Homo sapiens: one gene and its partner. The protein of the gene in region 2 interacts with the protein of the main gene of each other region in a biochemical or structural test. Each region holds a gene or a part of one and is shown on either strand. Other genes may lie near its edges.

Region 1 (3,347 bases), on a different chromosome or scaffold from region 2:
AAATGTCTGCCGTGATGGACAGCAAAGCAAGGACTTCTTGTACAGGTGGGGCATGCTGTGGGCTAGCTGCTGCCCGAGTTGGCTAGAACAGGAAACGTGGAAGCAGAGGGCCATGGCCTAGGTCCCCAAAATTAAAAGCTATGGCCTGGATTATGGCAGAAACAGGGGGCTGGAACAGCACCTTCCCAGGCTGGCTTGAGTGGGTGGGAGTGGATTCCCTTCTAACTGGGAAACTAATTCTCATGCCTGAGAGGAAGGAGGAAAAGACACTTCGTTCTGAATTAACACTCCGAACTCTTTTTCTCATAGAAATGATGTTGTAAATAGTGGTTGGCTACAAGAATGGCTTCTTTGATGAGCAGCAAGGTGCCTGAAATCCAGTCCATTTTTAGCTATTATTTTTATCTTCTGGCTATTTCACTAACAACCAGACTTATGCAATACGACCTTTTTGTAAAGTGGAAATTAATTATCTGTGGTTGAGAGTTTATAATCATGTTAGTTCATCAGGTAATAAGTTTAGGATTGCACTGAAAATTTAACGTGCTGCTGTGAGGAACTAGACCAGAAGACATCACCCAGCATACTGACTTGGAAACACTCCTATTTTATAATGAACCACAGTTTTGTTTTGTTTTTTAAAATCAGAATAGAACTTTATTTGTGGATTCAAGATTTTAAAAAATGATTTTACACTTTAAAGTGTGCAATAAATTTTGATACATCAATCTTGATATATATATTTACTGTGTCAGAAGATTTTAAAAAGTCAAATAGTTTATAATCAAAATGAATTGTGTTTAACTTGATACTTATATGGAATAACTTCAGCATTATAAATAAAAACCCAAAACAAACACCATTTAAATTTGAGTTCTGATGAAATGCATTTGTAATACAATTTTGTTAAAAATTTTTAATAAGAGATTGTAGGCTAAAGTTATATGCTTGTAATTTCTAGAAACATATGATGTCCTTGCTTTATGAAAATGATCCTACTGACTGTCCCGCAGTAGAATGCATTTGAGACACTTTTCTATCTGGGATAAGGGGCTGTGTTGCTTGATAGATGTTTCTTCCAGACCACGAGCCCCTAGTGGGAGATGAAGGGGATGAAGGTCTGCAGCTGGGGACTGGTGGCAGTTGAGTCTGGTCTCATTTAACATCATGTTCTATGAGTCACAGAATCATCCAAATGAGTATCAGCCAGATACAAAGAAAGCTTTGTATTTTCTCATGCTTAGATAGTTCACAAACATAATATTTAAATAATTGTGGCAAAATCCTGTTTTAACAAAAATAATTTTCACATTCCATTCTACATAATGAGGACATTTCCAAAATGCATTGGCCCACATTACTATTACTTTGCTGATATGAAGAAAATGAATTATGATGGTAAGATCCATATACAGATATACACATGTGTATCCATATTATTTATATATTTAATATCAGAAATGTTCCTACTTCCTTGTCTCTTAGAAGTCACTTTACTTTTAAATGATTCTTTGGGAGTGTGGTCAATTTGCACACCTGACTTGACACAATCTGACGGTCAGCACAAAGCACCTTCTGATTGTATAACACTTTACAAAGTACTTTTTGCTTTCTCATCTGTCTGGAACTTCTGACAATCTGGCATGACAATGAGGGTGGGCATGATTACTCTCATTTGACAGATGAAGAAATATGAATCCAGAGAGGTTAAGTAAGCTGCTTCAGTTCACATGGCTGGTGAGATATCAAACCAGGACTATACCTGGTGCTCATCCTTGACTGCTGGTTGACAATGGTGAAGACAAAACGCAGGGTACATTAATCTGTGAATTGCTTCCCCTAAACCATGCTGATGCTGTGGTGTTTGGAAAGTAGAAAGTGGTTTTGCTACTGTCACATTTCAGATTTCTATCAGGTGCTAATGAGTACTCATCATGTTATACCCCAACAAACTTAAACCAAGAACCAGAGGTACTTTTTACAGTTCTCACAGGGTGTGTATATATATATATTTAAGAAGATTCGTAACATATATTTACAATTATTCCTAAATCACCAAGATACCATACTGAGAAATAGGTTTAATCTTTTTAAGAGCATTTTCTATATAATCATTCCAATATAAGGATGAAACAATATAAGTATGAAATATAAATACAGTCTTGGCACACTTTATCTTTGCAGGTGTGCTGGAACCTAGAACACTTTCCCTTTTGCCTTATTCTGCTTACGCCTACTTTTGATTGTTTTACAAATTCATAGACACATTTGCAAGTTCCTTGAGGATCAGGACTCAGCTTCTCTGAAGCTGACAACTCTTACCCCAGAGCATAGCACAGCGCTAGGCACGCAGCATTCAATAAACGTTTGATGAATACATGTACATGGTCTTTATGTACTTCAGTTTGGTTAAAGGAAGATATGAACTGTAGCATTTTGCCTACAGAATTCTGGATTTGTAATTAAAAACATTGTCTTCATAGTAAACAGTATTTTAAAAGGCATAAGAAATAGTAATAAATTTAATACAAATTATGCATTATAACAACTCTTTGGTTATTTTAAACAAATTATTTGGTTTTTTTACTAGAGTGATACTAAAAATATAAAAATGCGACTACAGAAATTAGCTTAATCTGTAAACATGATAAACCCTGTAAACATACATTTACTACATAATTGTACAAGTGTAAAGAATATCTAGTAAAGGCAAGTGCTATACACTTCATTTAGTTCTTCAAGGCATATTTAGAAATACTGCTTTGTGGATCTTTAATGTTTGAAGAAGGAATTCTTCTAACTACACTAAAATATGAAAAAGTGATGACTATACCAATGGTCAATAGGATATGCAGGCAAGAGAAAGGCTTTAATACTTTTTACCCATTGCAAATATGAATTTGCTTCACATGTCTTATGAACCATCTGTTTAGTAAAACTGCATATTAACAAAAGCCAAATACTTCGAAAGTGAAGAAGTAAACAGTTTTTCTGTGAGTTAGTTGGCTAGAAATATAGGTAACACACTTTCCAAAGTTTTTTCCCAAAAATCTAGGCAGTAAGGTGCATAAGGCAGGTCTACAAAATAATAAATAGCTGCGAGTAGCACTAAATATATTGTAGTTTACTCAATAGTAAAGTATTTCTTTTTCCAAATTTCAGTTTTCCATCTCAAAATGCATCAAACTTTTCACACATGACACGTATCACAAATATTTCACAGTTATCATCTCAGTAGTTTAAGAAAAAACTGCCTGGCAGATACTATACAAGAGGTAAATGTTAAGGACAAAATTCACTATTTAAGTCATACAGGACTTATATCCTATTGTGTGAACTCTAAAGCC
Region 2 (3,756 bases):
TTTCTCTGGCATACACTGATGTTATTAATCAGGCCATTATAAACAAAACCAAGAGTTATACTAGATAGGTTAAATGACTACGTAAATTGTGTAACTCTAACACTAACATTGCCTTACAATGTTAGTTGTAAGTTGCCTTACAAGGAGAACAGATCGATGTCCTACCTAAAGTACTACCTTTAGAGGGACTGGTAGGCTTTATCTTTAGAAGAACTGATTTTTGCCCTCTGTTCTCAAGGAACATTCAAAGTCTATGTAGGACACATCGTCAGTTTGAAAAAAACGAGGGGAGGGGGCAGCAATAAAATATGCCCATTTATTTTGAAAGGAGTTGTTGGGAAAACAAATATCTTAAAACTGAGAGCTACATAAATTAACAGTGTTTTGGGTAGTGACGTCTGTAGGAAAAATGAAACAAGTTTCACTGCTGATATTATTCAATATTTATATCATTTTATTTTTGCTAACATTTACAAACCTAGAAATGCCTTTCAAACCATCAAAAGGGTGTACACTGACAACTTGAAAAACGCTTTCCATACTGGGAGAAACAGTATTTCCCAAGTTGTTGAGAAAAGCTGATAAATTTTCAAAGAATTCGGAATATGGACCTTTTGTAGGTTTTAAGGAATGCAAACCAATTGAAAATGGAAGCCTCATGAGCTTTTATCTTAGAAAAATGCAAAATTACATACTTTAGGATCTCATCTTACAGTTCCTTCATATTTGCCAAAATGTACTTATTAATAGAAAGTCTTGGCTTATAACCTGTCTTACATGTGCAAATAGATTTGAAAGTTGAAACCTGGGACTAACATACCTAAATTTGTAAAATTTTATAAACCATAAACTGCATCACCAGTGCTATGTATTGTTTTTCTCCTCTCCCTCAGTAAATGGGCTGAAAGTTTGTAGAATGACATGCTACCTAGCTGCAACAGCACAACAGCAGAGTCAACTATTGCTCAGTCCATCTTTAACTAAGGTTTACAACAGGAATCTCCAACGTCACCACCAGAATACACAAAGAAAAATATATTTAAAAATTGACACTGAAAATATAGAGGAACACATTTCACTTTTTTCAACATAGTTACCAAAGTTTACACAGTTAAGCTGGAAAACCTTGTATTTAACGAAAAATAATTTTTCAAACAAGATTAGAATTTGTTCTACTAAAACTACCTCTGTTTCCCCTCTAACCAAAAAAAAAAAAAAAAAAAAAAAAAAGAAAGAAAGAAAGAAAGAAAAAGTGGGGATTACCAAAAAATACAGTCATTTTTAATACTAACATAATGGAAAAGGACAAAATGACAAGGTTAACGAGCAGAGAGACAAGATCAGCATTATGGCTAGTCTTTCTCTACAGTTCCACAATTCCTAACCCACATTTTTGCCAAATCCACATCCCACCCCACGCAGTACTTACACCTCCACCCACCTACTCACCCACCCCATTTATGACGGCGATCACCTTCCGGGCAGGTATGTGAAGTCAGCCCCATTTCCAGTAGACAATCGACTAGAATGTCTCAGGAGTGACTGAGTCAGAGAATAAGAAAATGATAAAGTGAGAAATTAAAACGGATACAAGTTGTAAGGTGTGTGGAGGGAGGGCGTCTCACAGCGGGGCTAAGGGTGCGGGTGAGGAGCTAAGCAGACTTGGGGCGAGAGAGAAGGGTTTCGAAGGAGTCCTAGGCAGGAGTGCGCAGGTGAGGCGAGTGAAGCAGCTCCAGCCAGAAGATCCAAAAAAACAAAACAAAACACAACAAAAAAAAGCCACAGCTTTTCCTCCGGGAATAACCTGAGGAAAGGGACTCTCGGGACGCCGCGGCGGGAGGCAGTCCCGGGAGGCACAGGAGGCCGGGAACTCACCACCTGGTAGCGCCCAGTCCCCGGCTGGTGGTGATCCATCCTGCCCGGCTCGGGATCCGGCTTCCGAGAGAGGGAGTCTTCTCCGTGCTCAGCTCCCACGGCCACCCCCGTCGACGACGTCGTCGCCGCAGGGCCCCTTCCGCCTCCGTTCCTGCAGCCGCGGTCTCCCGGCGGAAGCTCTTCACTTCCTGTGGCTCCCGCAGCGGCCGCCGAGACCTCCGCGTTGGTCGCGGTTCCGCGGAGAAGCTCCGGGGCGCCGCGCGCGCTATTGAGCATGCTCGGACCGCTCGCGCAGACTCGCTGGCTCCGCCGGCGTGCCATCCGCGCCGCCAGTGGGAGGGTATAGCTGGGTGGGAGGAGATGGAAAAGTAAGGCAAGTCCGGGGGAGCTGTCTAGGTTGTCAACCTGTCGAGTGGGCGGTCGCAAAAGGCGCGCGGGGGGCGGGAATGACCCGTCCTTGATTGGTCTTTTCTGTGTGCGCGAGTTTCGCGCAGGCACGAGCCAGTGCGCCTTCTCACCACACAGAGACAGAGGCTGACAAGGGATGGGGCCGCGTTCCTAGAACACCTGAGGACAGGTCGCCCGGGTACCCGACACTTCCTCACCCAGCGTAGGACATGGGGAGGAGATTCATCTCTAGAACATTCCCAAAACGCTTATTCAAAATCATTCGTAAGATAAGCGATTTTTTAAAGACTAATATAGAGTAGTTAGAGTTTACAGAAAAATTGAGAAGTTACAGAGATATCCCATATACACTTGGCTCCTACGCATGCATAACCCCCCACCATTATCAACATCCCCCCTCAGAGTGGTACATGTGTTACGACTGATGAACCTGCATTGACACCTCATCATCACTCAAAGTCCATAGTTACCTCAGGGTTCACTCAGGTTGTTGTATACTCCTCGAGTTAGAACAAATGTGTAATGGCAGGTATCCATCATTATAGTATCCTACAGAGTATTTCCACTGCCCTGAAATTCTTCTGTGGGGTAATTTTTGTTTTTGTTTGTTGTTTTTTTAGAGATGGGGTCTCACTATATTGCCCAGACTGGAGTGCAGTGGCTGTTAGCAGGCGCAGTCATGGCTCACTGTAGCCTCGAACTCCTCGGCCCAAGCTATCCACCTGCCTCAGCCTCTGGAGTAGCTGAGACTACAGGCACTAGCTCTTTGGTTACTTTTTAAACTCTTTTTTCCACTTTTTGGTAATAAGAGATTTAAAAATCCAACGGACTCTCCAGACAACTCTCAAAGAAAGAGGTCTCTAGAGTTCTAGGTTACTGGAAGGACGTTAGAAGAAAGTAATGAAATCAGATAGGATTATTTTGTGGTAATACTCAATAATTCCAATTGATTTAACAGCAAGGAATCACTTGGGAGCACTGTTAGTAGTATCTCACTGTCTGGTTAACCACACATGACACGGCATAAAGCATATTTCTCTAGCAAGTAGAAGAGTATGACAGAGCAGCGAAAAGTACCTTTTAACCTGAAGACCAACGTTCTATACCCTAAAAACTATGATGCTGCTTGATGTGGCCCAGCTATGTTTTTAACATAACACCACATTTTCCCTAAATGATCTTACAGTGGAGCGCCCTGAAGGGAAGGAAAGGGATCTGGAGCCCCATTTATTTCCTTCATGAATGTCCAGAGGAGATCCTTGAAATGAAGACTGCCACTGGGTGAGCCTAATCAACTGGTTAAAATAGCAAGATAGAATAAAAACAGAAACTCTTTGAGAGATTGACAACTAAAAAATGTAAGCCTTCCTCATAGTTCTTTTTAAAGCATTCATCAACTCTTCCTATTTGTGCCGTTTTGACATGTCTAATAGCATAAAGCATTACTGTGCTAACAATAAGAGGCAGTGATAT

Evidence for each region. Proteins that work in one complex are often made in the same cells at the same time.
Region 1: the proteins of NDFIP2 (region 2) and NEDD4 form a complex in vitro, tested with the Homo sapiens proteins (3 studies listed by BioGRID, with this or other methods).

Annotation. Positions count from the first base shown.
Region 1 is NC_000015.10:55,826,293-55,829,639, forward strand, and holds the end of NEDD4 (E3 ubiquitin-protein ligase NEDD4), read right to left. Parts: 3' UTR 630-3,347; downstream 1-629. UniProt on the Homo sapiens protein: E3 ubiquitin-protein ligase which accepts ubiquitin from an E2 ubiquitin-conjugating enzyme in the form of a thioester and then directly transfers the ubiquitin to targeted substrates. Specifically ubiquitinates 'Lys-63' in target proteins.
Region 2 is NC_000013.11:79,479,644-79,483,399, reverse strand, and holds the start of NDFIP2 (NEDD4 family-interacting protein 2), read right to left. Parts: upstream 2,246-3,756; 5' UTR 2,197-2,245; coding exon 1,876-2,196; intron 1-1,875. UniProt on the Homo sapiens protein: Activates HECT domain-containing E3 ubiquitin-protein ligases, including ITCH, NEDD4, NEDD4L, SMURF2, WWP1 and WWP2, and consequently modulates the stability of their targets. As a result, may control many cellular processes.